Linked DNA regions of Homo sapiens: all the other regions are linked to region 2. Evidence: fine-mapped expression QTL. A gene starts in region 2. Each other region holds a variant in brackets. All regions are shown on one strand. Distances are from middle to middle. Region 1 holds the start of LOC105371022 (a long non-coding RNA gene). Region 2 holds the start of ADAMTS17 (ADAM metallopeptidase with thrombospondin type 1 motif 17). Region 3 has its middle 220 kb from the start of LYSMD4. Region 4 overlaps ADAMTS17 (ADAM metallopeptidase with thrombospondin type 1 motif 17).

Region 1 (8,102 bases), 360 kb before region 2:
CTCCTGACCTCAGGTGATCCACCCATCTCGGCCTCCCAAAGTGCTGGGATTTACAGGCATGAGCCACCACAACCAGCCAGATCTTTAAGTGCTCTTCTTCTCCTTGTATCACCACTGACCTGGGGCATGAACTGGTAAGAGGCCAGGTTCCGAGCACCCAGGGCCAAACCACTCACACAGTCTGCAGCCCCTCCAACCACGCCTGTCTGCTGCTCAAGCATCAGCCTGGGGTGTGCCCCATGTGTGCATCCTCATGGCATCATGAAGGATGCCCCTGGAGCTTTCATTTCTAGAAAGAAGCACTTCCCTTCACATTCCTCATGCACAGGAAACCTACAGTGTCTGTGGAACATTCTCCTGTGTTGGGCAAAGGGGTGAGGGAGACGCTCAGGTGCCTGTGTTGGAGACAGCAGTAAGCAAACACCACTTCCATAACAAGGAATGGAATCCATCTCTGAAACCTCTTCTACAGAACTGACAAATGTCAGCCTTATGTGACAAGTGAGGCCCAAGAAGGGGCTTTCTGGCTGAAAGAACCTCACCGTCAGGGAGGACTTACTGGGCAGGAGACACAGCAGCCCCCTGGGAACCGGGGCCAGTGAAGACACTCACCAAGGCGGGGGGAGGTGATGGTGTTGGCGTTGATCCTGTCGTTGCAGACCTCCTGGTAGCACTGTCTGTAGGGGGCAGGCTTCGAGAGGGCGGGGCACTCGCTGCCGTGGCGCCCTGTGACCTTGTGCATGCACTGCACCACCCGGGACTGCAGGCCCTTCCCGCAGGTCGACGAGCACTGCAGAGACAGGACAGCCTGAGTGGGGCTGACATGAGGTCAAGGGACTGGGATGATGGCCTCACAATGTGGCACTGCGGAGACAGGACAGCCTGAGTGGGGGCCTACACGAGGTCAGGGGGCTGGGATGATGGCCTCACAATGTGGCACTGCGGAGACAGGACAGCCTGAGTGGGGCCTACACGAGGTCAGGGGGCTGGGACGATGGCCTCACAATGTGGCTGCCCCTGGGCTGGGCACTGTGTGTCATGCCCAGGCACTTGCAATCATTCAGGGCAAAAACAGCAGCTGCCTGATAGAAGACTGTTTCAAGATGTTATGGAATACATGTTTGTGTCTCTGCAAAATGCAGATGTTGGAGCCGTGGAGGTGGGTGGCTTTGGGAGGTGAGTAGGGTTAGATGTCATGAGGGTGGAGCCTCCATGCTGGGAATAGTGTGAGAAGGGAAAGAGACCCGAGCTTGCTGGCTCTCCACCGTGAGAGGATACCGTGGTCTGTAAATCGGGGAGGGTCTTCACCAGGCACTGGATTTGTTAGCACCTTGATTCTGATCCTCCACCTCCAGAACTGTAAGGAATAAATGTTTAAGCCACCAGGCTTCGGTACTTGGTGACAGCAGCCAGGGGAGACTAAGATGTTAAGACAACAGCTGAAATATTAACTCATGCTAGCTGCATTCCACCGCTCGCCTCTGCTCCAGGCTCTGACGTTTTTGAGATGGTGAGCAGCATGGCTTGGTGGCCCCCAGGAAGGACCGGGCCTGATGACCACAGAGGTCTCCCAAGCACTGTCTGCTGCCTGAGGCTCCGGGGCCTTTGCCCAGTCTTGGGCATGGAGAAGAGCCCAGTAATGACTGGGGTTGAATTTCCCACAAGCCTGGAGGATTGGGGCTTAGAATTAAGTAAAAGAAAACAAAGTACAACCTTTCTTGCATACCAGAGTCACGCACTAACATGTGGCTGACGGTGTTGATTTAGACATCCCTGGCTGCTGGCATCTCCAGCCCCAGCATGAGGAGGTGCCGTGTTTGCTAAAACCTGGTCAACATAGTTGAGCAGAGGCCCCCAAATTCCCAAGGAGTGGACCCGGTTAAGACTTCGTGGTTCTGTTCTCCGTCCCTCCTCTTCATATATATATATATATATATATATATATATATATATATATATATATATATAATTTTTTTTTTTTTTTTTTTTTTTTTTTTGAGATGGAGTCTCGCTTTATCACCCAGGCTGGAGTGCAGTGGCGCAATCTCGGCTCACTGTGCAACCTCCACCTCCCTGGTTGAAGTGATTCCCCTGCCTCAGCCTTCTGAGTAGCTGGGATTATAGGCACCTGCCACCACATCTGGCTAATTTTTTTGTATTTTTAGTAGAGACAGGGCTTCATCATATTGGCCAGACTGGTCTTGAACTCCTGACCTCAGGCAATCTGCCCGCCTTGGCCTCCCAAAGTGCTGGGATTACAGGAGTGAGCCACCGTGCCTGGTGTCTCTTCACACTCCTTAAAGCATTTCCCAGGTAGGAACTGGCCAGGTATCTGAGTCCTCTACTCAGATTCTGCTCTTGAGCTTTTCGGCCCCTGCTTTCTCCCAGGAGCCCTTGGAATGGTCTCTTCTCCCTTACATTGGCCTCTTCCCAGGAAGACAGCCAGGTCCATGAGTATACTTTGGTGTCCACCAGAGCCCACACAACCCCTGATTTACAGGGTTCTGAGAGCAGTCAGCAAAACCGGTACAGCAGCCGAGCTGGAGCTAGGAATGGCACCTGGGGTGGAGAGAGGGGAGCAGGGCGTGGAGGGTTTGGGCGCAGCCTTGTTCTCTGAATGCCACACGTGGTGAGGGAGGCAGGTGCCCCGCAGATCCTGTGCTTCCCGTGTCCTCACTCTTGGTCCTGACCCTGGCCTTGCTGGAGAAAGGACCTTCCTGGGGGTCATGCGGAGTCTCCAGACACAGGCTGCGTGGGAGGCGGTGGTGTCCCATCTGTGCCTGGGAGGGCTGTCTGCTCCCAGGGGGGCTTCTGCAAGCCAGGTGGATTCCTCAGCTTCCTTGCCTGACAAGCAGGTTCAGGTTTTGTGTGTCTTTTTTCACTTTAGAGTGATAAACATTCAGAGGGAATGTTGCTCTAAAGGGGCACTGCTTTTTTCAGCTCACAAAGGAGGTGTGAAAACTATAAGCAGCTCCCTAGTGGGCCCCCGGCACGTTCAAACTGGAACCCGGGCTCTGACCCGAGAGGCCAGGCCAACCCTAGGGCCTCCCCACTTCATGCCTTGTTCCTTTTCTTAGATAAACCCTTCGGAGGCAGCTCATGGCCTTTCAAATTCATGCATTACACATGCAGATTTCAGGGCTCCATCCCAGACCTCAGGAGTCGGCATCAGGCGCATGGAAGTTTGAGGAGTGCTGAGGTTGAGGGATGAAGTCACACAAGGAAGTTCCCGCCTTGAACACAAGACAGGTGCTACAGCAACGCGACTCCCGCCCTGCTGGTGTTGGGGGCACCTTGGAGGAAGCTGGCTGCACACTGGGATCTACTGCATGCAGCTACCTGGTGAGCTTTGAAAAATCCCACACCAATACAATCCGATGGTGGAGGGGGTCCCAAGACCCAGAGCTCAGTGTTTATAAAGCTCTCCAAGTGCTTGCAGTGGGCATTCAGAACCGAGGGCCTCCGACTTAACCTGAACCTCCTCTCAGGTCCCTGTGGAGAATGCAAAGAGCTCTCTTTTCTTCCTGTTAAGGAGTAGTTGTGTCTCTGCACACACAAATATGTATAATTAAGCAAGAACAACATCCAGGCGCAGCCCTGACTGCAGTCTATAGCCAGATGACAGGTGTGCCTAAAGGTAAGGGAGCAAAGGCTTTCAGTCAAAATTCTTTTTAGAGGCCAGGTGCGGTGGCTCACGCCTGTAATCCCAGCACATTGGGAGGCTGAGGCAGGCGGATCACGAGGTGAGGAGTTTGAGACCAGCCTGGCCAACATAGTGAAACCTTGTCTCTACTAAAAATACAAAAATTAGCCAGGCGTGGTGGCGTGCACCTGTAATCCTAGCTACTCGGGAGGCTGAGGCAGGAAAATGGCTTGAACCCAGGAGGTGGAGGTTGTGGTGAGCTGCGATCGTGCCACTGCACTCCAGCCTGGGCAACAGAGCAAGACTCCATCTCAAAAAAAAAAAAAATCACTTACAAAAGCAATCTGGTAAGTAGTTGTACCCAGAAACTG[A/G]GAGTCCACACAAATGTGGTAGATGAAGGGAAAAGCCAACGTTCCCAATGCGGAACAAAGCCACGGAGCCGAACGCTAAACGCAGAGCGAAGTCACGCCAATCCCCTGCAAAACCACGCGAGTGGTCCACTGGGAGCGGGACAGACTGAAAAAAGGGCAGCATTTGAGTGAAGTCAGATACAACCACGTGCCCTCTGGCAAACCGACAGGCGACTCAAAGTGGAGCTGGTGACGATGAGACCAACACTACAATCACCAGGTTGCACCACACAAAACTGCTTCTATTCAACTGTTTTGACCTCAAAGCATCCATTTCATAAGGCTCCATTTTATAACATACCAAGGAAAATAGCAACATTTCTAAATTTGAATGTTTATAATGCATAACTTTAAATATGAATGTATAACTACATCAATAAGTTACTTAATGGCAGGCATTTGATGAGTCCACTTACATCACTAGAGACTTTTATATCTAAATGTGTTATGTAATTCAAAAGAAACCCTGCTTCCTGGGAAAACGGGATTACCATATAATCAGGGTTAATTTCTGTGACTATTTGGCACGTATGAGGCCCACTTAAGAACAGAGGGCTGGGTGCGGTGGCTCACACCTGTAACCCCAGCATTTTGGGAGGCTGCAGTGGGCAGGTCACCTGAGGCCAGAAGTTCGAGACCAGCCTGGCCCACATGGCAAAACGCTGTCTCTACTAAAAATATAAAAATTAGCTGGGCATGGTGGTGAGCACCTGTAATCCCAGCTACTTGGGAGGCTGAGACAGGAGAATCACTTCAACCCAGGAGGCAGAGGTTGCAGTTAGCTGAGATTGCACCACTGCACTCCAGCTTGGGTGATAGAGCAAGACTCTGTTTCAAAAAAGTAAAAACTAAAAACAGAGAGATACACCTGCTGCCTGCCGACCTGCAGGCAACACCAACATCCCTTTTCTCTTCAGATCTTTTCTCGGGCCATTGGCCACAGTGCCGCCTCTACTGCAAAACATGTACCCAGGAGGGAAAGGCAGGCAGCCTCCTATTCCTTTCTGGAGAGAGGAGCATGGGGCAGGGGGCTGTTGGATTTCTGGGGAGGAAACTGCACAGATGGATGGAGGAACCCGCCTCACTCCCCTGCATCTCCTGAAGAGGTGTCCGTGCCCTGCCAGCTGGGGAGTCAGTCCCACTGAATCACTGCTGTTAAGGGGCTCAGCCCTGCAGGAGTGCCAGGAAGGGCTTCCGTTTCTTCTGCGAGTGTTGCTGATATGTATGTGAAAATCACACAAGGGCAAGGGCTTCACCCTGTGCGTCTATTAAAACCAAGTGCAGCATTGGCAAGGTTTCTGCCTGGAAATGATCAATGACCATCGTAAAACTCAGGCATTTGAGGTGACCTTGCAGACGTGTCCCCTCTGAAAGGTCTTAGTCTTGTGCAGCCTGCTCTGGGGCCGAGGGGAAAAGGCTGACATGTGGCACGTCTCCAGCATATGCAGATGGTATGCCTGCTCTTCCCAGTGGACCCCTCGTAGGCCTCCACGGCAGCACGGAACGTTCCACAACAATCCTCAGGGCTGATGCCGGCCACTGAGGTTGGCACGGGTCCACGTCTTGCTCAAAGTTGCAGAGGTAGGAGTGGCGAGTGGTCCAGGGACCCCATCTCATGGAATGAATTCCACCCTCCTATGTGAATAAGAGGTTGTACTGAATGGAGCTTTAATCGGAAGCGGGAATCAAAGAACCAGGTCACTGCCCATCTCCACCATTTACTCATTATCTTTCCTAGCATGGGTCACTGGCTTTTAATTTTCCAGTCTATAAATAGAACTGCTCCATGAGATCATGGAAGGGTGTCTCCAAAGTCCTTCAACAGGGACAGGTGTCTGTTCTCACTGTTCACTAGTGCCCCCATGAGGCAGGGCCAGGTGTGAGGCAGTTCTGAGGGCAGGTGGTCCCAAGGGCTCTGCCCCTTGTAGGCATTTTACTCTCATCAGAATTAGGGTTTGCTTAATTCTAGCTGGAGTCCTAGTGGGCACTGTTCACACAGCTGTGGGCTATGAGTGGCTCTGACTCACCTGGGAGAATTTTTGAGAATTTTGGGGTGTTTGCTTAACTGCCTGGAGCTGTGTCTGGGCCAGCCCCCTAGAGGATGCTTCCATGTGTTAGGTGAGAAGACAAGTTACAAAGTGGCATGTACAGAAACCACCCCGTTTTTGTTTAATATAGATGTGTGTATACCTATGTAACAGTTTGGAAGACAAACCGTTATAAAAATTTACCATGTCATCATATGGTTTCTGGGACTAATTTTCCTTTTAGTGTGTTCTATAGTAAGAGCTACTTATATAATTAAAAATAAAACTGGAGAATTCTGCCAATGAGTCTGGTGTAACCTGCTGGTGGCCCACCATCCTAACCAGCTGCATTTTCATTTGAGCTGAGGTGCTGCCAGGCCTGCCCTGGCCTAAAATCCACAGGTAATATACTCTCCTAAAGCAGAGTTTTGATGGAGAGGCCATGCAGTGCGGGGTGTCAGGCGGCAGGGGGAAGGGGTGCCTGTTGGCATGCTACGTCCCCACTTACTAGCTGTGTGACCTCAGGCAAATGACTTAACCTCTCTGAGCCTCAGTTTATTTGCAGCATGAGGATAACAAACTCTTGTTTGTAGAATTGTTTCCTGCAGTAGAGGCAGTGTGGAATAGGAGCCTAGCCGGGGGTCTCAGATAGAGTGGAGCTCCACAAATCCTGCTGTTATTATTCTCAACAGTGAATGCACGGCCAAGCGCCACAGCGAGCTGGGCAGGGAGCTCCTGCAGCCCAGCAAGGCACACTGCGTCACCTGGCCCACTCCCTTAGCACTCCTTGGGCTGCCCTTCGGTCACCAGGCCCTCCACAGGCAGGTGCACACAGCCCTGTCTGCCTGGCTCCCTGAGTTGATCAGGCAGCCAGACCTCAGGGAGCACAATTAGAGGCTGTTTTGGCCCTGAAGACAAACATGATTCCAGACAGGTCTGAAGGGGCTGCTGTTGAACGACACCCTCGTAACCTGAGCTGGGCCATGGTGGGCGCACGGGGTGAATTCCTTCTCTGTCGGCCTCCCCTAAGGCTTCAACGTTAATTGAACAGTGAGGAGACTGTAGTGTCTCCTGATAGCATCGAATTTGCCCCAAGCATTGCTGTGAAGCCATTTTTCAGGCTTTAATCATCCAAGCAAACAGATCTATAAAAAACATATCTGGTCTTGTTTGGTCCTTTTGTCAAGGGGCTCATCACATCCAATTTCATGTGGCTTCCCAAGATGCAGGTAACTGAGAGAAATGGGGGCAGCAATAAATTTAGCTGAAAAGCTCCTTGCCGGGAAACCTGAAGTGAGTGGAGCCCCCTCCCCAGCAGGTGCCCACAGCTGTGCGTCGGAGCTGGCTGCCCGGTGGAGAGGCAGCCTCTGCATCTGTCCACCACCCTTCCCAGGCAGGGAGGGGGTGTCACTGGAAAAAACAGGAACAAAATTGTTGATGCACAAAGGGCAAAAAGAGGTTCAATTTGGATTTACTCATGTGCTTTTTTTGTGTGCAAATTATTTCATGAAGTTACTGTGTAAAAGAGATTTTCCTTTAGGTAGAGTTTCCGGCAAAAAGAGAAAAGGTGTTAGGTTCCCCAGACCAGCGTGATACTGAGACATTGTGCAAGCGTTACTAGCTTCTTTAATAATAACAGTAACGGCAGTCACCGTCGCAGCAGGGCCCACCACCTGCCTGTCTGCTGTGTACGGGGGACCGGGCTTACGTACGAGCTTGTTAATCCTCACACTGACAGCTGCCGTGGCCAGAGCTCAGAACACAGTAGGTGCTCAATAAGTGGTGTCTGCTGGGGATGCGGCGCCACCTTTCAGAGAGGCAGAATGTGAGGTTTCAGAGCGTCCATGTAAGTCTTCCCAAGCCACACAGCTAGCCTGCCCCTGCCCCCCACCTGCCCGTACCACCCCCAACAGGGGAGGAACCAGGTCTCCATCACCCCTACCCTGATGACATCCTTCCCCACAGCGGGATTCCCTTCCCCTAGCTTCTCCCAGCTGTAAAATCACAACTGTAAATAACACC
Region 2 (8,102 bases):
CTATAAATTAGAGGTATGCATTCTCTAAAGTTCTCAAGTGGACTGGAATAGCTGTACGGAACTATGAATGTCCCATGTGCCACAAATGACGTGCTACCAACATGGACACGTGGTCTGCAGTCAGGCTGACCAGTCAGAGTGAGGTGGGCTGGGCCACCAGACTGACCCCAGTGATTCCAAATAAGAGTCCTACAGCATGTGGCTGTGGCAACAGAAGAGCTATGGTAGGAGGATCCCCGACCTTCTCACAGTCCTTCAAGGTGGCCTGGAACGTGGATCCCTGACCTTCTCACAGTCCTTCAAGGTGACCTGGAACGCGGTTATGGCTTAATGTTTTGCAGCCCAGAGCTCCTTGGTGGTCTGTCTGGTCCCACCATCTCACAGTGTGCCCCTGGCAGGCCACAGCTTTTTCCAAGAAGGGGTGGACACATTCCAGTGGGTGGCCTTCCCAAGCTTTGTGAGTATCATCCAAGAAAGGATGGCCACTGCTTGGCAGACCAAACCCGACAGCAGGGGGCCTCCAGCCCTCCCCTCCTCTCGTTCACTCTTCCTAAAACAAGTCCTCCAGCCACTCACTTCAGACAAGCTGCAAAGATTCTTTTCAGAGCCTGACGCTCATGCTGTTCTTGAAGTGCCCTCTCCGCTATCCTGTCTACCTATGAAGTTCAGCCTGATTCCAATTCCACTGGCCTTCCACGATCCAGTCCTGATCACAGAGGCAGCTGATCCGAACTTACATAAATTCACGAAGAGTGTAAAGGCCTTCCTCAGACACCTGAAGTTCATGCTTTGAAATGATATGCTCATAGAAACACTTCCAAAAAACCCATGCTCTAAAGACTCTTGGAAATGTAAATACAATGAAGAAGCATAAACAGAAAACAATTAATACTTAAGTCTATGGCCTTTGAAGATCCAAAAGGCGCAGCTGGCCCAGCTTTTCAGGATAAGACACCAAGAAAGGAATGCGGCAGGCCCATGCCTCTATCTGCTGTCAAAAGGAAAAGGAGCAAAAATGGAACAGGTGCTTTACTCTCCATGGCCCCTAAACAGCTACGGAATGATCTATTCTAATAATTCGTCTCCTTTAAACAGACAGCAAACATCTCTGGAGACAAACAGCACAGATTCCATGCAACATGGAATAGAACGTGTGTGCCCCCAGCCCAGGCACTCAACACTCTCTACTGAGCCCTTTAGGAGATGTTCAATACAGTGGGACTTACCAGCAATTAACATGATACTCAACATCCGGAACGAAGTTTTGTTGAACGTGGCCACATCCATTCGCTCGTATGCCATCCGTAGCTGTAGCTGCTTTCACACTGAAAGGGCAGCTTTGAGCAGCTGCAACAAAGGCTATGTGGCCCCCAAAGCCTAAACTATTTATTTTCTGGTCCTTAAGAGAAGAAGTTTGCCCGACTCTTGCTCATTTTTAGATACAAGGACACTTCGAAATGCCCCTCCTCCATGGCCACCAAAAATCATCTACTTATAGCCTCCCTTCCCACACCTTATAGCCGAGCCTGTCGTAGCAAATACACACACACACAACTCCACATCTCCACTCACAGAGCTTCTACCACAGTACCACAGTCAAGAGGGACTAACACAACATCATCAGCCACCTGAACTGAGAACCAAAGTCAAAGCTAGTCTGCAATGCAAACTTGGTTAGCCCAAATTCCTGTTGCTTTCTTTTCTTTACGCTTTCAGGACCACCTTGCAAACAAAGGGTCCACCTCCAAGTCACCCCACTGTCTCTTCCCTCCGGCCTTCAGTACGTACAGAGGGGGAAGTGTCCAATGTCCAGCTCACACGAACGGGATGAACAAGGCAGACTAAACAACAGAAGTGTCTGCTCCGGCAGGAATTTAAAAGCTGAAGTCTTAGAGGTACAACCGCCACTGGCACACACTGAACTCAGCCTGTTGGCCAGGTTCCTTTATCTAAAGCACAGCACCCTCACATGGTGCTAAAGGGAAGGACAGTCTTGCCGAGAAGCTGGCTGAGATGCCATCTATGACAGGGCCCAGCCCTCATTCTGCAAGGATTTTAAATCAATGTTATCCAGCTTTCCACCTCGGCGCCTTCACAGATAGCTCCTTGCTGGAAACTTTACACCAAGAAGTATAAACTCTGACCTCTACAGAAACTCACTAAACCGCAGCAAATGGGATTCAGATGTTTCCATGTACAGTACAATGATGTGACTTAGACTTTAAACACTTTGGCAAAAACAGGAAAAATGATGTGGCCCTTCCAGTCCCTCCCAGAACATGATACAGCCTTGACCCGAGCCCTACAGTGATCTGAGCCTTTCTCACTCCTACTTAAGCCTCCTTGCCTACAACCCACATTCCCCGCCCCAGGTCCACATTCCCCGCCCCAGGTCCACATTCCCCGCCCCAGGTCCACATTCCCCGCCCCAGGTCCACATTCCCCGCCCCAGGTCCACATTCCCCGCCCCAGGTCCACATTAGCTCCTTCCTACCAGGCCCCCTCCAAGGGTCTATATCACTTTCCTTGTTTCACCAAAGTTGCCTATTTTTCCCAGCTGAGCAAAAGTCTATCATACCCTAATCAGAACTCAGAAAATTCCTGAAAGGAGAGCCAGACTGATCTAGGAAACTACACACAGAGATACCCGCAGGACTGGGAAGAAAGAGAGGTCTCACATAAGACCTTGCACCCCCAGCCTTCTAGCTTCGTAGATTCTCGAGGACTCGCCACAGACTCTGTGAGTAAGGGCTGGAGAATTCTAGATGGTGGCACAAGAAAAGGTGGAGGTGTGGGGAGCAGTTTCTTGTGCCTGGGAAGGACAGACACAAACTAATATCAGAAACTGCCTCCCCAGAGGCCAGTCATGACAGAAGACAGAGAACCCCTGCGGTTCATGCTCTGGGTCCATACCAAGCTTCGCTGGGGGCAGCCCATCTGCCGGCCATGTGTGCGGCTTTCGGGGCACGATGGAGAAGCTGAGTGCTCGTCTGGGCGCCAGTGTAGCCACATGATCAAGTGTGCGCGCAGGCAGGGCAAGTGCACACAAGAACCCCCCCTCCCCCTGGGAGCACCTGTTCCGGGTGCCTCAAATGCAACAGGCCAGGAACTTCGGGGCAGGGAAGTTACTGCCACAGCAAGGGAGCTCCTGGGGGCAGGAATAGGGTTTATCACCAATGTAAACACCCCTCAGGCCTGGTTGGGGGTGGGCACCAGATAAATGCCTACTAATAGTATAAGGAAGCAAAGACAAACACCCTTTCTCTCCTGTTTCTTACGTTTCAGCTAGGAAGAGTGGGGTGAGCCGTGGCCTGTCTGGGTACCTCTCCAAACTTCCTGTTCCAGGTACAGAGAGAAGACTCAAAAGGAAGGGAGGTGAATGCCCACTCCCCCACCTCCAAGTCCAAGAACATAACACCTACACGTACACAGGTACTCCCGTGACATACACTTTGACACGGCGGTGCAGATGCAGTGTTCTCTACATTGGGGCCAAGGCGCCTCTGTCCAGGGCCCTGACAGTTTCATCCCTGCCAGATCTGCGCTCCCTAGAGCGGGCGGCGTATACCCCACGCAACCCCAGCTCCGCGCGGGTTCCACGGGCTGCAGAGGCGCTGGACTGGGATGCTGCCCCTCCCACCCCCTTTGCCTATAGAGGGTACCGAAGGCCGGGGTGGGGGATGGGGAGAGGTGGAAAGGCAGGGGGTTCCCTCCGGTTCCCCTGGAGGCTGGACTTCCAGCAGAGGCGCCCCACCCCCACCCTCCACGGCGACCACTCTGCGTCGCAACAGACCGGACGGGCCGACCCGGAGGTGGCGCGGGCAGTACCAGGCCGCCGGCGGCGCCGCAGGCGCTGAGCGAGACGAGGGAGCCGGGGTGGCCGAGCACACGGCCCGAGTAGAAGCACAGCTCGGCGGGGCGGCCGCGGCGCCGGGCCGCGCCCGCCTCCTCCACCTCGAAGCCTCGGGACAGGAAGCGCAGGTCGCGGCGCAGCTGAAGGTACAGGTCGCGCCCGAAGGCCGGCAGGTGCAGCAGCAGGGCGCGCTCTCCGGGCCGGGCGCGCGGGGCGGCTGGGGGCGTGCGGGGGCGTCGCCGCCGTCGGGGCCCGGGGGCTGCGGGCAGCGGCGGCAGGTGCACGTCGTCGGGGCGCACCCGCCACGGGAGCACCACCTCCACGTCGGCCGCCGCGTCGCCGACAGCTGCGGGGAGAGAGGAGACGCGTCAGCGCGGCGGGGCCCGCCCGGACGCCCGCCCTCCCGCTGGCCGCCAGCCGCGCCAGCGCGGGGACAGCGCGACCCGGAGCCGGCGCTGCCTTCCCTTCCCTCGCCCGGCACCTCCACGCTGGCCCGCGCCACCCGGGGAGGGTCTCCGGCGCAGCCGCGCGAGCACCTCCCGGAACGGCGCCGCGCATCGGCGAGCGGAGACCCGGCGGCGGCGCGCCTGCCACGGAGCCACCCGATTCCCGTACTCCGGCCGCGGCCCGCGCCTCCTCCGCTCGGGCGCCGTCAGCGGTCCCGCCGCCGCCCCCGGGCCGCCAGGACGCCGCGAGAACGCAGAGGGAAGGTAGCCGCAGGACGCGGGGTGAAGAGGGCTGTGGGAGGGGGCGCTACCTGTGCCCGGGTCCAGTCCCCAAACCAGCAGCAGCAGCACGGGCAGGACGAGCGGAGGCAGCAGGGCGCCGTCACACATGGTACCCGGGACCGGCAGCCCCCCCGGACCGTGGCGGCGAAGCAGGAGCGCGCTAGGCGGCGGCGCCAGCCGGAGTGAAGCCCTCCAGCCTTTGGAAAAAGTAATTAGCGCTGCGGACAAACCCAACGTGGTAAACCCCAAGCCCCGCCTTCCCCTCGGAAGGCGGGAGGGGATTGGGCCCTCGCTTTCCTCCGCCCCGCCTCCTCCTTCCCTACTGGTTGGGATGGGTCGAAACCACAGTGCGTAGTTAGGTTGTCAGCGCTTTCTTACACGTGGTTTCTGGGCAGTGGCGGGGACACGGCACCAGGTGGCGCGCGGGAGCCGACCGGAGCCGTGGGACCCTGGAAGAGCTGGAGGATGCGGGGCTGGTCTTCAGAGCTTGTCCTCATTTTGGAACTCTCTCAGCCTGCTGCCCAGTTTCCCGGGAAGGTAGGGCGGAAATCGCCCCGGCCAAGCGGTTTCATCCAAAACTGCATATAATCTTTACATCTGAAGTTAGGTTTTAGTTGTTTGTGGCCGCAAAGACTCCCAGTCCACTTTCCCGCACACCTGAGTTAGCACCTGAAGGCTATATCCGCGGCGTTTATCCAAACTCTTCACACCTCCTGTCTTCTTTAATCCCACAGGAGCCAGTGCAACACGCATGCTCACACCCTCTTACAGACTGAAAAACTGAGGAAGAGAGAGAGCTTAAGGAAAAACGCTGAAGTTACCCAGAGAGTTCCTGTTGGAGCAGAGGCTAGAATTTGTGATCCTGATTTCTGGCTTGGTGCTTCTTATTAACAGCAGGATCCCCCCGCCCCGAGGGAAGCAGGACTCAGTGTTACAGGTTAGGAAACGGAGGCACAAAGTCCCAAAGCCTAGCCTTGAACGTGAGTCTCCCAGAAACAGAATGAGTTGATCCTTTCCTGCCACAATATAACTGAGGTCTGCAGGGAAGGTGACTCCATTAGCTTGCTGAATAGCATCTTGTAGAGGCTCATGCCTGTAATCCCAGCACTTTGGGAGGCCAAGGCGGGCGGGTCACGAAGTCAGGGGTTCCAGACTAGCCTGGCCAATATGGTGAAACCCTGTCTCTACTAAAAATACAAAAATTAGCCAGGCGTGATGGCGCACACCTGTAGTCCCAGCTACTCGGGAGGCTAAGGCAGAAGAATCGCTTGAACCCGGGGGGTGGAGGTTGCAGTGAGCCGAGATTGTGCCACTGCACTCCAGCCTGGGCAACAGAGCAAGACTCCATCTCAAAAAAACAAAACAAAACCAAACAAAACAAAAAAAACAATTAAGTGTAACCATAACCAATCTCAGGTTTCCCGTCCCTTCCCTGTCCTGCTCTTTTCCATTTTATCATAGCAGAAAGGTTATAGTTCCCCGCTGGATGCTGCTTGAAGCCTCGGAATCTAAATTCATCACAGGATTACATATCATCTGAAGGAATCTATAACACTGGCCACCTTCCCCGAAATATAATGAACCCCAAGGCTGAACAGTGACCCTCCACAGAGGCTTGCCACAAAAGGGGCTGCCCTCACTGCTTGGCACCTACAGTTCTGGGGGCATCTGCACAGGTCCTGCTCTTGGCCAGGCCTGGGGCTGTGTTTCTCCCCCTTGCCTCTGTCCAGGTCAACAACCTCAGATGACTGACAGCTCAGTAGCATTTTCTGGCAGCACAAGAAACCTTGGTGATTGAGGTGATGGACACCTCATTTACCCTGATGGGATTATTACTCATTGTATGGCCATATCAAAAAATTTCATGTATATACATTTTGTAAACATATACACCTACTACGTACTCACAAAATATTAATTTTTTTAAAGATATCACAGTAAGTTTCTTAGTGAATCTTTTTGTCAAAAAGAGCCATTTCTAAGGCCTGCCACTGAAAACCATGGAGTATGGGCCACACCACCTCACAAGCGCAAGTCAGCCTGAAGTAGCCATCACCAACCTATCAAGAACCTATCCAAGATGCTCAAATGCTAAAATTAGTCCATAGGGACATGAAAACTAAAACAGAAAGATACTATTTTATCTCCCAACTAACCAAAATTAAAGAGCTTAGAAAAATCAAGAATTAGAGAGGACACTCTCCTACCTAGGGGTGGAGAGTATAAATTGGCACAGCCACTCTGAGGAACAATTGGGCAAACTGTAAAATTAAAGTTTTACTTTTTAGTTTTAATAAAACTAAAAATGCACACATTCTACAACTCTGTAATTCCACGCTGGTTAATTACTCCAGAGAAACTCTGGCACATGTACAAGAATGTTTGTTCACCAGGGCACCTTATTAAGAGCAAAAAATTGCAAAAACCTGAATGTTCATCGTTACATAAACGGCTACTTGAACACCATTAATTAAAGGAAATACAAAAATCTCATATATGTAACAACATGGACAGATCTCCAAGATCAGTTATCGAATTTTTTAAAAAATCAAGTTGCAGAATGAGGCACACCGAAAAAAAAATGTGTATAAACACACAGACACACATGACATGATCTGCATGGATTCAGATAAGTGTACATAAAATCCAAGAGGAAAGTCTGGAATAATACAAGCCAAACTTTGTTAAGGTTTATTGTTCTTTTTGTATTAATTGCATGCTGAGGAAAGGTACTACAAAAGGAAAATGAACACCTGGGACCCCAATTCACTCTGCCAAAGGAAAAAAATCAAGCTGAAAGCTGAGTCAAGCAATCAGCTGCCTTTTCTTCTGTTCCTAAGCAGACAGCGACAGATAAAAGGTTCAACATCTCCACAGGTAGCTGGTAGAGTAAGAGGGAGAAAGAAGAAATGGTAAAGTGACATGAAGGCAAGACGGTGTTCCGTGACTCCGTGCTGCTCCTGTCCCTGTATTGGATTCCAGCACCAGGGGCCTGTGTCTACTGCTGCACTGTTGAAGACACTGTCACGGTTATCATGGTTGATTCTGGATCTACCAAAGTAGTGCTGCCTTGACCGGGGCCCAGTTCTCATTGCCACACCAGCAACTTCCAGCACCTGTTAACATGGAATCCTTACCTCTGCCTCCTGCCATCTAATCTCCTGCCAGGGCCTCTTTTTGGCAGAAGCTAGCAAGAAGCCTAAGAAAATGTAAGGGAGTCAGAGAATGAAGGTTGCAGACTTTCAGCTTCAGTAAAGAGCAGAACATGGAAGTGGGTATGTGGGGCTGGGAGACAGAGCCGCTGAAGGTCTTAATCTGACCACCATGAGTCTGAATTCCCTTTGCCCTTCATCCTTGTATTCACCAGTCATATTAAAAGTTTAAGCTTCCATGCCTTCCACTTTCTCTTTCACAGCATTTCCTCCACAATACTGTGAACTGCCTTCCCCTACCCAAATCCAAGATCCTCCTCAGTCTTGAAACCTTCCCACTGTGCCCTTAAGAGCTGCTGCTCCATATCC
Region 3 (8,102 bases), 390 kb before region 2:
TTTTTGATAATAGCTATTCTAACAAGTGTGAGATCTCACTGTGGTTTTAATTTGCATTTCTCTAACGTTTAGTGATGTTGCAAATTTTTTCATATATCTGTTGGCCATTTGTATGTCTCCTTTTGAGAAATGTGTATTCAGGTCCTTTGCTCACTAAAAACAAATAAGGTTATTTGTTTTCTTGCTATTGAGTTGCTTGAGTTCTTCAGATATTTTTGATTTAAACCATTATCAGATGTATGGTTTGCAAATATTTTCTCCTGTAAATTGTCTCTTTATGCGGTTGGTTGTTTTCTTTACTGTGTAGAAACTTTTTAGTTTATATAATCCCATATGTGTATTTTTGCTTTTTTTGCCTGTGCTTTTTGGGTCATATCCAAAAAATAATTGCCCAGACCAATGTCATCAAACTTCCCCCTATGTTCTCCTCTAATAGTTTAACATTTTCAGGTCTTACATTTAAGTTTTTAATGCATTTTATTTTTGTATATGGTGTGAGATAAGGATCTAATTTCAATCTTCCATATGTGGCTATCCAGTCTTCCCAGCACCATTTAATTTACACTGTCCTTCCCCTCATCATGTATTTTTGCCATCATTGTGGAAAAAATCAATTGCAAATGTGTAGATTTATTTTGGGGCTCTCTAGTCTGCTTCCTTGATTTATATGTCTGTTTTGGGGCCAGTGCCATGCTCTTTTGATTACTATACCTTTGTAGTGTATTTTGAAGTCAGGTAGTGTGATGCCTCTGGCTTTGTTCTTTTTGCTCAAGACTGCTTGGGCTATTTGGGTCTTTTATGGTTCCATATGAGTTTTAGAATTGTTTCCTATTTCTGTGAAAAATGTCGTTGGAATTTTGATGGGAGTTGCATTGAATCCATAGGTCACTTTGGGTAGTATGAACATTTTAACAATATTATTTATTCCAATCCAGGAACACAGGATATCTTTTCACTTATTGAAGTCTTCCTCAATTTCTTTCATCAATGTTTTATAGTTTTCAGTGTATAGATCTTTGCCCTCCTTAATTATTTCTATTTTTTGATAGATATTATTAAGTGGGATTGTTTCTTGATATTAAGTGGGATTGTTTCTTGATTTTTTTTCTCATATAGGTCACAGTGTATTTCTTTTATGCTCTTATTATAAATTACATTTCTATACATTATGTGTCCATTGACAGAGGCTTGTTTCATATAGTTTTCTCCTATTTTAAAACAAATAGGAGAAAAGGAGTTACAAAAATTCCAGTTGTACTGTCTTTTATATCTACCTATGTAGTTACCTTTATCAGTGCTGTTTATTTCTTCATGTGGATTCACATTTCATTGCCACCTGTCCCCCCTGTCTTCACATTCATTCCCTCTCACTGTCTGATGTATCTTCCTTCCCTACAGTTTCAGACATCCTTCCATTCCACCTGGCAGGCCTGTAAGAGTTTCACTTCCTGCCCATGCAGCCAGTGACCCCTGCTGCCTTTGGAAATCACTGGTTACAGGTTGCCTTTTCTCCCTGCCCTCATCCAAAGCACAATGTGAAGGCATCTATTTCCCAGTCTGTGGGAATATGATCCACTTGAAGGCAAACTGACTTTTTAAAAAATCATATTTCCCATCCTCTCACTAGGAGGCTGAAGCAGTAACCTCTAAAGTGTCTGTTCTACTCTAGCTAATTGCACGTGGCTAGCAACCATTAAACAAAGCAGTTGCCCCCATAAGCAGATATTGGGCTCCAGTAGGGATGCTGTAAAACACAGGGTGGACTTAGTAATGGGTTTCTGGTAGGAACAGACCACCGGGGCTGGCCATTAACACTACGTTACTCAGGGCTATTGTTCATGGACTAATCAATTGTGAATTAGAGTTCTGAGCCATGTATAACTTATTTGTGGCATGGCGTCACCATTAATCATGTTCTGGAATGCCAAGAAAAGACTGAATTGAGTTATGCATTGAAGGTTTAAGGTTTCTTGAAACCAAGCTCACTTAACAGTATTCATGAGTAGATGACGTACTGTGGTAACCGGTCCTTGGTATTAGTCCAATTTCGCAGTGATCCCAGGGGCTAGATAGCTGAGCAGATGCTGAGGTTTCTGGAAAACAGTGACTAGTGTTCGGCATGAGTCTGGGGAGAAACCATATATGGCATATCTTATATTTTCAAAGCTCCAAGTGAGACCAAATGAGAAGGAGAGGTTTAAGATTTCCACATAAAATTCAAATGTTGTATTGGGCTTGGGGGAGAGAGAGAGGTCAGATTTCCTTGCAGTTTGGAACTTCCTTGGAATTCCATAGTACTAGAAACTGACCTTAACATGAGAGTCAACTTTGGAGGGAGAAGACACAAAGCAAGCTCGGAGTTGCAGAGACTTCTAACCTCTAGGTACTTCTTAATGCTCTTGCTACACTATCACCAACAACAATCACACTGGCTACCATGTCTTTGGACCTACTGAGTGCCAGGTGCTGTCCTAGGTGTCTTGCAGACATTAACATATGTAGTTTAACGTTCAGAGCAATATTCCATGGCAAGTTATATTATCCCTATTTTAAGATGGCAAACCATGTAGCATGTGTACCTGTGGCATTGAACACACACAAATTCCAGGTCGGGGGAGTCCCCATGAAGCATGTTCTTGCCACCTCTTCACTGTCTCTATAAATCTATTCTTGGGGCTGGTTCTTCCCCTGACCCTGGATGAAAGTTTTGGTCCATGAATTTTTTTGGTCTCTCCAAGGTAATAAAAATAGTTTCCCAGTCAACTTTCTCAAGTCAACTTAAGTTGCAAAATATGGTCTCGATTCAGTAATAAAACTATCCAGTTTCGTGGCATAATACAACTCTGAATTTCGTTTAAAGTTGAATCTATTCTTTCTCTTCTGGCTTCAGGAGGAAGATTGCCTGGGGGAAGAGTCCACAGTAAGCCTGTTAGAGCTTTCCCCACCTGGGAATTCTTTGTCTTCCATGGGCTGGGGGCAGGTGGAGGGGAAAGGGGACCAGGAAGGTTCCTTCTTGGCAGATACTGATGTGACTATCAAATATGATTGTTCTCTGGGCCTTGCAAGTGCTCAGAGCTAACTTTGCCTCCTAGAGCACGTTCATAGGTGGCCTGGAGATACACATCCATCACCCTGTTATCTGCTGACATCTCTCTCCTGCAGGCTGATGTAGAAGATGGGCTTTTCTCTACTTGCGGTTAGTACTCCTTCTTCAGCTCCAGGGACGCTGGTGGATCACAGCTGGTATTCTCCTATTGTCTCCTCACCACACAGTCCCCTTGGACAGGACCTAAGCCACCGCACATCAGCTGTCTCTCGTACA[T/C]GGCCCCCCACTGTCTCTACTCTGACACACTCTGAAAGTGCAGGCTGATTCTGGTGCAGCTACCTCCCTTCCTCTGCCATCAAAGTAGCTAGGTTGCCTGCTATAGACTGAATTGTCCCCCTGCCCCCCATTCATATGTTGAACCTTAACCCCCAGTGTGACTGAATTTGGAAACAGGGCCTATAACAAGGTAATTAGGGTTAAATGAGGCCATAAGGGTGGGGCCCTCATCCGTAGGATTAGTATCCTTATGAGAAGGGACACCGAGAACTCTCCTTCACTCTTTCTCCAAGAGTGCTCAGAGGAAAGGCCATGGGAGGACACAGCAGCTGTCTGAGAGCCAGGAAGAGCACCCTCGCCAGAAACCAAGCCCTGCTGGATCTTGATCTGGGACTTCCAGCCTCCAGTACTATGAGAAATAGAGTTCTTTTGTTTAAGCCACTTCTGTGGCTTTCTGTCCTGGCAGCCCCAGCCAACAAAGGGCCAATCTCTTTCCATCTGGATTTCTCAGCTGTGAGCCAGGTACCCATCCACTATGCTGCCTAAACATCTGGGTACGTGTATGGTATGAAGTCCCTTTTGAGGTCTCCATGTAGCCCCTCTTCTTTTCTAGGCCCAAGATGGGTGGGAGGTACCATCTCCTCATTGGCAGGGCTGGAACGAGGCACACCAGTGGCTATCTCCAAAGAAATATTTTAATCACCAAAGCCCAGCTTTTTTACATCCATACCCATGGGTAAGGGGTTTTGGTTTGATGGTTTGGGGTCAGGTATTGTCTTGGGCACATGGTATCTCTGCATATTGATGTCAGTCCAAACTTCCATTTTCACATTGTTTAGTAACCAGTTGGTGAGAAGCTAGGCCCGTGTCTTGAATCCAGGTCTCTCTGACTAGGATTTGTAGTCTTTCCAAAACTATATTGCCCTGACTCTCTGAAATACAACGATTTCAGACTGTAAACTCACGAGGGCAGGGCTGTGTCTGTCATGTCTACCACTGTATCTCTTGACTTCTAACGTGTTTAACACAGAGCCCATGCTATTATGGATGTGGAAGTTGCCACGTGCATGGTGGCCAGTGCAGTGCCTGGCACGTATGAGAACTCACTCAATATTTGTTAAAACTGTGGAATGGAGCGGAGAGGCCAGCTTTCTGGTGCCGGAATGAGAATTGGGAATCATATAAGCATGCTGGAGCCTTCTGGAGGTCAAGGAGGTCTGCTGGGTGAGGAAGCTTTCTGGTTACTTCCCAAGGGGCTAGGCCAGGCTCTTCCATTTGGGTCCAGTTTCTACCTCCTTCCTGCTTTCTTTCAGGCATACATGAGTCATCTCCTTCTCCCCTCAGGGGCTTGAATCTTGCCTGGCCCCCAGAGGTGACAATCACTGCAGGACAGAGCCACACCGTAGTAAGCAAGTTACACTCCGCTGTGGGGAGCCGGCATCCCAGCCTGGAGGAGGAGACCCTGTCCTGGGCCTAACCCGCAGATAGGAGCTGAGTCATGATTTGGTAGGTCAGCCTTGGCCCCTGGCTGAAGCAAGGGGGAAAAGCATCAGAGAAGAACATGGTTAGGACAAGGGGCTGAGGGTCATTGCTGCTTTCAGTTTCACCCCTCATGTGCTGTGTGACCTTGACAAAAATCTTCACTCTCTAAACAAGCCAGAGCTGGGAAATCTGCCCGCTAATGCTTTGCATATGTATGTTGCAAGGAATAATGAGACAGGCTCCACGAAGCATGTTCTGTCCTTGGGGGACAAACAGTACAAGCTATTTATTTCAAGAGCATGGCTTAACCAGCTCATCCAGCTTAGCCCAGAAACACCCCTGGCTATCCTGGCATGATCTCTGTAGAAGCAAGAAGGTCTAATTAGGTGTCCTTTTCTGCCTGGAGCCCAGTTGGCCCACTCTGAGCAGAAGGCAAAATGCTGTTGGTCTGGCATTCAAGGTCCCACGTCTCTGTCCATGGCTGTGTCTTAAACTCATTCATTCATCAGGAAATCTTTATTGAATCCTTCATCTGCACGAGGCCCTGTGGTGGGCCCTGGAGGCGGGGGGCAAAACTGGAAACATGCTGGTCTTTGGACCTCCGGTTTCAATTGCTATCAACCCCACAATGCTGCACCTCATGTGCCACCGATTTCCCACTCTCCTCTGTCCCCTTGCACAGCCTGTCCCTTCTGTCCAGAAAGCCCTTCCTCTCCTCTGCCTGCCAGATCCTCACTTCTCCTTCAGGTGTCCTCTCCTCTGTGAGTCTCCATGGACTGCATGAAGCAGAGTGAATCACTCTTTGCTATGTGGCTCTGAGAGATGTGACAGCCTCTCTGGCTTTGGTCTTCCTGGTGTGGAATGTGGCTGCACCCACTCTGTAGAGTGGCCGACAGTCCTGGATTACTTTCAGGGGGCTTCATGACTCAAAGCCAAGCAGGATCTCATTTTGAGATGGGTTCACCCATCAATCTGCCTCAGGACCCAGACCCTGCAGCCAGCATTCCATCCAGCCTCTGGGAGGCAGTTTTGGTTCAGACAAGGCCATGTGTTACATAGCCTTACAGAGAGAGGGCTGGAGGGCAGGGTGCATGGATAGAAGGTACAGAAGACTCCAGGATGCTTGCATTAGAATAAAATGAGAAGAAGGCATACTTTGGTGTTTGATTTATTGGTGTGCTCTCCTTTAGAAGAGAGCCTGGAAGAGTCTGCCTTATTTTCCAACCTGAGGAGGAAGTGCAGTCCACGGGCAGGCCGAGGGTGGGTAGGTGGGGCGTGGCAGGGCAGGAGGTAGCTGCTGACCACCTGCCTTGACGTAACGCATGACCCATCTGTTCCCCTCCCTTAGAACCCACCCGTCCTGGCAAATAGGCCCCATGTTCCTGTCTCTAATCCTCCCAAGAGTCCTGACCACTTTCTTCTTTACCCTCTGTTTTAAAATATACATTAAGAGAGAATGTGAGGAACAGCAGGACCAACAGATCAGGAGGCAGCTGCCCTTGAAAAGATGGTTTGTTACTCACAGTTCCCAAGACAAGGGAGTGTGCCATGGGGGGTCGTGCCAGGAAGCACAGGACTGGGCGGGAGGCAGAGGCAGCAGGAATAAAACATGGACAAGAGCCTCTACTGTGGTTCCATGGGAAGGACTGGGCAAGGCAGGGTAGACAGGCCAGGGATTGGCCTGTTTGATTAATTTCTGCAGGCTTTGGGGTGTTGGGCCTGTCTCTAGTTGCCTGGTACTCGCCCTGGGGCAACGCGGGGAGGTGGGGGTGGCTGGAAGGATGGGGGTGTGGCCAGGGGTGTGGCCTCTGGATTGGTTGGCTCACATTTGAGGAGCACGCTGTGGGGGTGAGTTCTTTATTCTCTCTAGGAAATAGTCCTGGGAGGGGCCATCCCTTCAGGGTTGGCAAGGCCCCAGATGTCAAAGCATCAGGAAACAGAAAATAAAAGACATGGTTATATCTCCTCACACCCAGGAGCACAGCTCTCTGGCCTCCACGTGGCTCTGCACCTCAGCCCTGGATTCTCATCCCTGGTGGGGCTGGGGGTCCTTTGTGGATGGGCACGGGCCTCATGCCACTTGAGAGGGGGAACCTGGACCCAGCCTATGTCCTGCCTAGCACCCACCAGGGTGTGGCATGAAAGAGACTGTGGAGAATGGAAGGGGAAGCTCTGGTGCCCACCAGGAAGGCATGTGGGGAGGGGTGGTGTGGGCTGTGGTATGGGGGATGCACGGAAGAACAAGGGCTCCGGGAAGGACTGGAACAACACGCAAGGCCACAGGAAAGAGGCTTTGTCCTTGCCTGGAATTCCTATGCCTTTCTAAAGGATCAACTTATACAGAGGGGTAGAGCAGACTGGATGCGATTCTCAGAGTAGTCAGAAGTGTGGCACCCAGAGTTACCTGCAGGCTTTTGCTGAAAGCGATCATGTGGCACAGCTGGGAATGACCCCACAGCCAGGGACTGGGCAGAGGGGGTATCCAAACAGTGTGGCCGGTGAGCCCTGGTTTGTAGACCCCTGGCTTGGAACAATGGGGATCCCAGGCATGGGCAGGGGGCAACAGGGGGAGCACATTGCCTGAAGGGTGAGCTGGGAGAGCTTTGAGTAGGAAGCAGTAAAGGGAGCCCCTGTTAGCGGTCTGAAAAGAGTGACTTTGGTATTGGTGAGGTGGTAGGGAGCAAGGCGAGCCAGGCGGCTCCTGCAACAGGCCTGAGCCGGAGCAGTGCCCACAGGGATGGACATGTGGGAATTTAAGACAAAGGACATGGGCTGGGTACGGTGGCTCACGCCTGTAATCCCATCACTTAGGGAGGCCAAGGCAGGAGGATCCCTTGAGGCCAGAAGTTCGAGACCAGCATAGTGAGATCCCATCTCTACAAAAAAGGAAAAAAAACCAAAGTGACAGGACTTGGGGAGGTTCTGTCTATGGGCTGGCTCTCAGGTTTCTCACTTTTGTAAAAACGGAGCAAGGTGGAGCCACTCATTGAGACACACAGTCCCCGGGCGGGAGCCGGGATTCTGAGAAATGTCCGCTGTCAATTGTGGGAGACTCTGGAGAAGGAGGAAGTGGCGCTCCCCACAGTCTGTTCCATGGAATGCTAATAGCTGAACTAAACAGCCACGGCTACGACCGCTCTCAGCACTTTAAGATACTATTCCATTCCCTCTGGCACCTGCTGTCAGACTGTTATTCCTTCCAGGGTGCCTGTCTTTTCTCTGGTTGCTTTTAAGATTTCTTCTTCCTCCTTGATCTCTGTAGTTTCAATATGATGTATGAGGTGTGGATTCACTTCTG
Region 4 (8,102 bases), 290 kb before region 2:
CATGGACCACGGCCACTCACCTCCGCCGCACTGCACACTGCACCCTTCCCAGCCGCTGTGGGTCCAGATGAACAAAGAGTCCTGCGGTTTTTCTGGTTCGCTTTGATTTTCCGCAGTGCGGTTTACAGGAACAGTGTATTCATAATGAATTCCATAATCTTGGTCGTGAAATAACAACACCTGGATCAGCCGCAAAACAAAAGGCCATTTTGAAAAGGAAGGAAGGCCCGTGGGAATGCCGAATCTGCACACACAGGCACACTGCGGCTGTTTCTTTATGAGGGGTAACCAGCTCTTTTCTGGGGCTGAAAACAGGTTCCACTGAGGGTGCTCCTTTATCTCAGCCCTGGATTCCTCAGGGACTCAACTGAGGAGTGGGGTGAATGCAAACCATCGTGAGGGAGTTCTGTTCTTTCCTACCCAAGAGAGAGACCAGCTTAGACTAGGAGCTTTAGGATAAGTGACTCTGAAACCTCTCACTGCACTTTTGATGGAGAGCTGCGTCACGCAGAGAACAGTCCACATTCCTGCATGCTCACCCACAAAGCTGCCCTTGCAGACAGGAAAGACACAGATAAACTTTTACCTAGAAAGGCATCAGAGCAATTGGGGTGACTCTATTTCTTTGGAAATGAACATCTTCCTTCACTCCCCATCATCAATCACTGCTGTGTCAGTTGGTCCAGAGTCAGGAGTAAGGCAAGCTCAAGGGCAAAATGCAGCTCACTGGTGATACTGATTCTGCAAACAATGTGTACACCCCAGTTTGGGGACCATGGCTTTCTATATAGAGGCAAAGGGGCACCTCTCATTTTCAGTTTTAAAATCTTGAAGTGACAATCACATTTTGAAAGAAAAGCCATCAATATTAAGCGAGGGCTGAAACTTCAGTTACGGTAGTAGTTGCTTTCTCCGAGTTTTGTTCATCCTGGTCTGAATGAATCCAGGCTGGGGACTTCACTTTAACGGGCTAACCACTTGCTCAGTTTACAAAGGCTTTTGGTGAAAAGGGAAATACATTCACATTGGTGTTTGCTAGAGAAAGCAAATTCTCATGCTAACAGGTGAAGTTTCAGTACAGGTTTTATGTTTTGCCTCCTCTCTTAGTCCCTCTGAATAACTGCTTTTAACTCAGAATAGGAGGATTTGTTCTGACTGTGACTAGGGAACAATCTTATCCCAGATAAATGACTTAGGTACACATTCTTGGGTCCCAGAAACCTACTTGCAGGAACGTATTTGCAGTGGACTTAGCGGGCTGAGAGGTGCGCTGGCAGATTTCTACATGGTTTGGTTGCACATGAAAACTGCCTTACCTTTGTCTCCCCAGAAATTTTAACGGGGTTAACACCACTACGGGGCAACGCCCACCCTGGGGGCCAGCGCTCCCCGGCAGAGCCAGCCTCCTCAGGAGATTCCCTGGGCAATGGCTAGAAAATCTTTTGGGTGTCAACTAACCTGGAACACTTACAGGCTGCCAGAGATCACAAATTAACGGGGAAGAAGAACTTCCACGGAGAGACTCTGGCAGGCACTGTGGACAAAGCGTGTTTTGATTACAGGGGCACAAGCTGCCACAAATCCTGTTTTTTGGAAGGAGACCCGGAATCGATAATGATGAGCCATCAGAAGTTAGCCATGAGAACTCCTGGATCTTGAGACGGAAGCAGGGCGCTCCATTCCCTGGAGATCTCTGACATGTTTAAAAGGAGGCATCACTGATGTTTCAGTGGCTTGCATGGAGGCCTCCCTGAGACAACAGGTAAGACGGCGCCCTGGCCTGGCCCAATGGCTCACAGGTTTCTGGAGGTCACCTGGGGAGTAGAATACCCACATCATCTGATCCCCCTCCCTGATTCCCAAATGCTCGTTGCAAGCTGGGTCTGTGAAACCTGAGGGATTCCAGTTCGGACCTGGAGTCATAGTTCATTTCCGAAAGGTAATGATATACACTCTGTGCAGGCAGATCTATGCATCTCACCAACCGATGCAAAAACAGACTTGGAGTGGGGCTGTCTGCTTAATGAGGCCAAGTCTCCCTGGCTGCCATCCACGTGGCTAAGCATTTCCTTCTTTGAGGCAGCTCCTTTTGAAAAAGATAGGAGCTCGGCCAGGGAAGAGCCAGGGGAAGCAATGAGAGAATTCTGAAGCAAGTTGTGCAAGGGACTGGAAAAGAAAGGACCCAGAGAGGGGAGAGGACTGAGCAGCAGGGGACGGCATAAACCCCTGGAAGCCAGATGCATTTCCTGCCCCCGAGGTCCCAGGCAGAAGTAAACTGGAAAGTAACCTAGTAGACCTCTCGGAGCCACACCCCCTAAGACAAGTGTGGAAGCCCAGCAAGTTACCATCAAGTGCAGCGGTAGTTTGGTTGGTCCCTTGGCAGAGATCTTCTCCCACAGCCCCCTTCTCACATAGCGAACAGTTGTGCCTGCAATCTGGAACTCTCCGGGGAGCTCTATCTTCCAGTCACTGTTGATGGACCCCTTACCCGAGTCTTTGAGAGCTAGAAAGCAAGTTGAAGACCAAAGAATCAAGGGGCTGGGGGTAGGGGGATCCAGCCTGTCTTTAAACGGAATCTACAGCCCCTGAGTGGGGCAGAGGTCTCCCTTCCACAGGGGGAAGGAGGGAGGCCTGAAGCGAGAGAAGGCGAGTGCTCTGTATACTGAGAACAAAAGCCTGGATCGCAGGGAGCACGGAGATGCAGACCCCTAGGATCCCCAGGGAGAGCTGTGGGATTGATGGGCACCTTTCAGCCTGGGCTTCTGTCTCAAAACCAACTCAGATAGCTGGGGTTAGGGGTGGAGGGGCAGGGAATGGAGAAGACCATGGTCTGATATCATTTCACTAAACTTATCCAGCAGATGGTTTTCTGCCTGATGAATTCATTCCATTTTAATGTGTCCCAGGCTACAAACCAGGTTTTGCTGCTTTAGCAAAACTCATCAGTTCCCTTTCCTATTACCTACCTGGGGTTCCAGAAGGAGAAGAGCCCATCTCCAGCACCTCTTAAGGATCTGATATCCCCCCATTACTAAAGTGGACGTCCCTTCAATCAATAACCATTACTCTGTTAAGTATGAAGGTTTGGAAACCCTAGCCACCCACAGATGTGGTGGTCACACTTGGCAGCTGTGGACGAGCAGTGGTTGGGGGCTGAGCGTAGCAGGGGAGAGGCACTCTCACACCCTAGCTCTGTGGGCTTCAGGTTCTCACGTTTGCTCACCCACATCTCTACCAGGGACAGCCTGTGCCAGGAGGGGCTGAGAATCAACATGCTGCTGACGGGCCATAAGCAGAAACTTGGTTTTCCACACAAGCCATGTATTTACTATTTTCTGAGTCGCTCACCAGGATTTTTCTTGTGTCTTCCCACTTCGGGGTGAAGATCATGTGGTTCTCATGAGGACAGCACTCTGCAGTGACATCCTATTTTGTTGCTGCTGTTATTTAGGGAAAAAAAAATCCCAACAACTAAAACCTATTCTGGCATTTTAGGAGAAGTCGGCAGATGACAAGAGGTGACAGTAAGTCTGTCATTTCCCAAAATGGGAACTCCAGGGCACCCTCAGTCCTATGCCCACACTCCCTGTACACACAACTGGAGCCCCAAGGACACCCCAAACTGATCTACATATATCTCATTGGGACCCTACTCAGTCCATATCAATGAAATCAGATTCT[A/G]CTGCATTGACTGTTCTCTGCTTACTGAGGCCAGAAATAAAATGCCCACATTTAATACTGATTTTGGAAAATGAGAGTTGAAACCCAAAAGGGGTTTTGGTTACTGCTGAATTCATCAGCCCCAGGCTGGAGCAGGCCACAAGCAACAGAGGGTCGCTGGGTAGTCACTGGCCTCAGTTCTTGTCTCCAGGACATTATGGTCCCACTGCTCGCTCCCGGCAAACACACAGACGCAGGCTCAGGGCTTCTCGTGTTAGAGGGACTGCCAAGAGAAACAGGTTCCTCGCTTCTAGGAACTTTCCAGCAGAGTGGCTTCCAGTGGGGTCTCGTATCCAGGGTGGCTATGAGAGGCTGAGGATTATAGGACTCCAGGGACAGCTTAGGAAAGAGAAAGCCCTGCCACTTGGAGCCGAATCTGTTTCCCTTCAAGAAATCCAACCCACAACTGAACTGTCCTGGCTATGAAAAGGAGGTGAGAATGTTGGGACACCCACAGTTTCCTCTCCTTTTTCTCTTCTTCTGCCACCATCTGCAAACTGCCATTTAAGGTGCATATTCTCTAGGTTGGCTCTTTCATATACTCTGACCCATTTAATCTTCTCAACAACCCTCTGAATTATTGTCATCACTTCATGGGTGAGGCAATGGGGGCAGAGAGAAGTACCTTGCCCAAAATCACAAAGCTATTCAGTTGTAGAGTGGAGACCTGAATCCAACAGACCAACCCTACTGCACTTATCACTCTGACAACTTTCAATTCCCATTTCTTTAGCATCAGTCTAGATTTTATGACTAATGCTGAAATGTGCAAAGGTAAGGCCTGTTTTCAAAAAGGACAAATTCTACGCTCTGTTACAGGGTTTCATATTCTATATACCCTTACAACAGTGACTGATTTCACGGATTTCCAATGCTTCTAGTGAGCTAATAATGCAAATACATACTTGGTTATATTAACTATAGGCAAATATAGGCAAAGGGTGCATGGACGTTCATCATTCTTTCAAGCTTTCTGCAGGTTTAGAAAATTGTCTCTTGCATATGCATGTGTCTATTTGGTTTTAGGATCCAGTGTGGGCTGGTGGGAAGGAGCAGATAGAAAAAACCAAGGGGCCAGAGTCCTTTAAGACAGCAGTCCCCAGGACTGCTTTTTGGGACTAGGGACTGGTTTCGTGGAAGGCAATTTTTCCACAGACCAGGGGGTTGGGGGAAGTGGGGTGGCGGGGGATGGTTTTGGGATGAAACTTTCCACCTCAGATCATCAGCCATTAGATTCTCATAAGGCATGCACAACCCAGATCCCTTGCACGTGCCATTCACAATAGGGTTTGCGCTCCTATGAGAATCTAATGTCCCACTTCTGATCTGACAGGAGGCGCAGCTCAGGCGGTCATGCTCGCTCGCAGGGCACTCACCTGCTGCTGTGCAGCCTGGTTCCTAACAGACCATGGACTACTGCTGGTCCGCAACCTGGGGTCTGGGGACTTCTGCTTGAAGAAACACCTCAGAAAGCATAAGTTGGGGGAACAGCAGATGTACCCTGCCATTCCCTCAGCCTATTTTGAGGGCCTCCTCACTGCTGGCTAAAGACAGACACAGCTCTTGCTCCCAGGGAGCTCACAGTTTGGAAGGGAGAGAGAGAAAAGATGAACACAACACAATTTCACAAGCTTTATGGTAAGGTGCCTCCGGGGCCTGGGAATGTTGTGGGACGGGGCAGATGGGGAAGGCTTCCTGGGATAAGCCCGCTTTCAGCTGAGCGTGTAAGACAGGGAGAGGAGACAACGCCACCCGCAGTGTGTGGCTCAGTGGTGTGTGGCTGCCTGCAGTGTGTGAGGCAGGACGGTCATTCCTGATCCTCAGAGGCCAGGACTGCTAAGATCAGTTCTGGGCGGGGTGATGGAGGGAGGAAGGCACAGCACCCCATATGGAGAAGCAAGTGGAAGGTAAAGTTTTTTCCACTTTTCAGAGGTTTGGCTGGGAAAAGGAGGCAAGAGAGGGAGAGTGGCCTCAGAGGGTGGGAAGAAGGAAGGGGCTCACTGTGAGGATAGAGGACACCCAGGCATGCTGAGGTGCCCTGTACAAAGGAGACAGAGATGAGCAAATGATTTCTTTGAAGCTGTGTGCTGACCACAGCCACACCAGGGCCTGCTCCGTAGAACCCATTTCTCTCACAAAGACCAGAGGGAAGCCAGGCAGCTGCTCTCCTCCTTGCTGGGCCACCAGCACGGACCGGCTGAGTCCCATATCCACACCCTGCCAGTGACAGACTCCAACACGGGCTGCCCTGAGCTGGGGCCCCAGGCTCGTCCCTGGTTTGTTGCTTCTGTGAACACCCACTGTGCCCATGACACGGCATCTGTTTCTCCCTTTAAGCAATGGTACCCAGGGTTTCTCCTGGGAACATGTTTTCCCTCCCGTCACGTGGGATTGAACCCCACAGTTCCAGGCACAGGCCCATCACCCAACCCCAAACAGGGGGACTTTTGTTCACCTTAGGAAAAGGCAGCTTTCTTCCCACAGGGTTTCCCAGAGACTGGATGTGAGCCTGGATCTACCAGCCCACAGGAAGATGTCCACAGAGAGGACAGGCAGGAGTGCCAGTGCGGAGAGAAACCGTTTCTCCTGTGACATCATTTTAAGCCCCTGGATCCAGCAGTGCCTGAAGCTGGTGCTCAGCAACTGAGAGCTGGGTTTGGCATTCACACATGCTTTTTGGAGGTTGGGTTAAAAAAAAGCTAATCACGATGAGGGCAGAACAGGCGAGGAAAGAAAATTACTATTACAGCTTCCTATAAATAGGCCCCAGATGTTTACCACCCAGCTGAGTACCCCTGAGAGGCAGAAGGCCTGGCACACTCCACCCCTGCCTCAAACTCCCTCCAGGGCCTCTGCCCATATCCCAGCACTAACACCTCTATCCCAGCTCTAACCCTCCTATCCCGGCTCTAACACCCCTATCCCAGCTCCAACACCCCTATTCCGGCTCCAACACTCCTATCCCAGCTCTGACCCTCCTATCCCGGCTCTGACACCCCTATCCCGGCTCTAACCCTCCTATCCCGGCTCTAACACCCCTATCCCGGCTCTAACACCCCTATCCCGGCTCTAACACCCCTATCCCGGCTCTAACCCTCCTATCCCAGCTCTAACACTCCTGAGGAGGTGACTCTTTCTCCACTGGCCTTGTTTATGTATTCCTCGGGCCCTTTTTTTAAAGATGTTTTAAAGTGACTCTGAATGACAACCTACAAACTACCCCACTTCCATGCCAAAAGTAAAACATCTGGGAAGTCAAGAGTGAAAAGGCCCAAAAAAGGGCAGGAGGGCACACCTGGAGACGGTTATAAGACCATCCTCAGAAACGCTGCACAGAGGTGGCGGCTGGCCTGGGGAAGCCCTGCTTCTGCCATCGGAGGCCCGACACTGGGCGGCAGCAGCAGCAGCAACTACAGCACGAGGTGGAGATAGAGCCACTAGGGCCCTGGAGCCTGCCATCCTCTGATCACCGGAGCGGGGTCTTGCTTGTCTGTAGCGGAATGGGTGGGAGAGGTGTCAGGAAGAGGGCTACTGGAGGCCACGGAGGAGTCACTGGGTATGGTCAAGGAATTGTGGGATAGGAAAGCGAAAGAGGCTGCGGCTGACGGACAAACCCAGGCAAGCTCAACTGCTGATGGGAAGGAACATACTGGACAACAGAGTGCTAGCGGCAGCCGGTTCTCTGGGGAAAATAGCCTAGAGTCATGGCGTATTTGCTTCCCAAAGTGTAAATACCCTCACCATGACAGATTTTGCTATCCACCTGGCATCAGTGAACAAGGAGTGGGGAAGAGATGCCTCTAATTGGCTCTCACAAGCCACACACAGCTGTGGGGGCACTCCAACGAATTCTGAAGATGCTTGTCTTTGCTTTGGAGGTCCTGGTCTGGAGCCGATGAGTTGGAGAACTCCTGCACAATCACAACTTGTTTGAGGCCAGGCGTGGGTTTGGGGTCAGCTCTCACAGCCCCAGAAAGAATACACTTGGCATGCCCACGCACTGCCTGTGGCCATCGCCGCAGTGGCTGCAAGTTCTGGCGCACTGCAAATGCAGCTTTCCAGCTCAGAGCCTGCACGCCTCTCCTCGGGACAGCGTGCTCCTAGCCACGCATTTGTGTATCTCCCGGGGAGAGGAAAACACAGGCAGAGTTATTAGCAGGAGGTCAGCAGAGCCAGGAGGCATAGGGGTTACTTCCAACCTTTTCACTTTGGTGTCACTTAGCAAGATTCCAAATTTGCAATTTGCCGTGGTCCATCTGAAAAATCATAACTTCCTGCTAAAATCAGAAGTTCGCGCCTGACATCCCTCAAAAGAGATGTCAGCCTCAGAGATTCCTTTGGGACGTCAAGATCATTTTTAACAGTGAATAAATAGGTTCATT

What was found. PIP is the estimated chance that this variant, and not a neighbour inherited with it, causes the effect.
Region 1: its variant is the best candidate, but not a certain one, in a credible set for the expression of ADAMTS17 in thyroid (GTEx, PIP 0.64).
Region 3: its variant is the best candidate, but not a certain one, in a credible set for the expression of ADAMTS17 in thyroid (GTEx, PIP 0.74).
Region 4: its variant is the best candidate, but not a certain one, in a credible set for the expression of ADAMTS17 in whole blood (TOPMed, PIP 0.54).

The regions. Positions count from the first base shown.
Region 1 is chr15:99,975,433-99,983,534 of GRCh38, forward strand. It overlaps ADAMTS17 (ADAM metallopeptidase with thrombospondin type 1 motif 17), which reads right to left. Exons shown (of 22, transcript NM_139057.4): 21 at 613-790. LOC105371022 (a long non-coding RNA gene) reads left to right here and starts at 791. Exons shown (of 2, transcript XR_001751713.2): 1 at 791-1,159; 2 at 3,078-5,342. RefSeq lists enhancers at 260-855, 856-1,451, 6,261-7,239. The variant A/G (reference allele first, on the strand shown) is at 4,015.
Region 2 is chr15:100,337,211-100,345,312 of GRCh38, forward strand. ADAMTS17 (ADAM metallopeptidase with thrombospondin type 1 motif 17) reads right to left here and starts at 4,765. Exons shown (of 22, transcript NM_139057.4): 1 at 4,611-4,765; 2 at 3,829-4,199. The coding sequence starts at 4,689. SPATA41 (spermatogenesis associated 41) reads right to left here. Exons shown (of 2, transcript NR_028139.1): 2 at 7,247-8,102. RefSeq lists an enhancer at 3,099-3,617.
Region 3 is chr15:99,949,667-99,957,768 of GRCh38, forward strand. No RefSeq gene overlaps it. Among named protein-coding and RNA genes, the nearest start is that of LYSMD4, 220 kb to the left of the region's middle. The variant T/C (reference allele first, on the strand shown) is at 3,323.
Region 4 is chr15:100,051,552-100,059,653 of GRCh38, forward strand. It overlaps ADAMTS17 (ADAM metallopeptidase with thrombospondin type 1 motif 17), which reads right to left. Exons shown (of 22, transcript NM_139057.4): 16 at 2,346-2,503; 17 at 21-180. Among named protein-coding and RNA genes, the nearest start is that of ADAMTS17, 290 kb to the right of the region's middle. The variant A/G (reference allele first, on the strand shown) is at 3,682.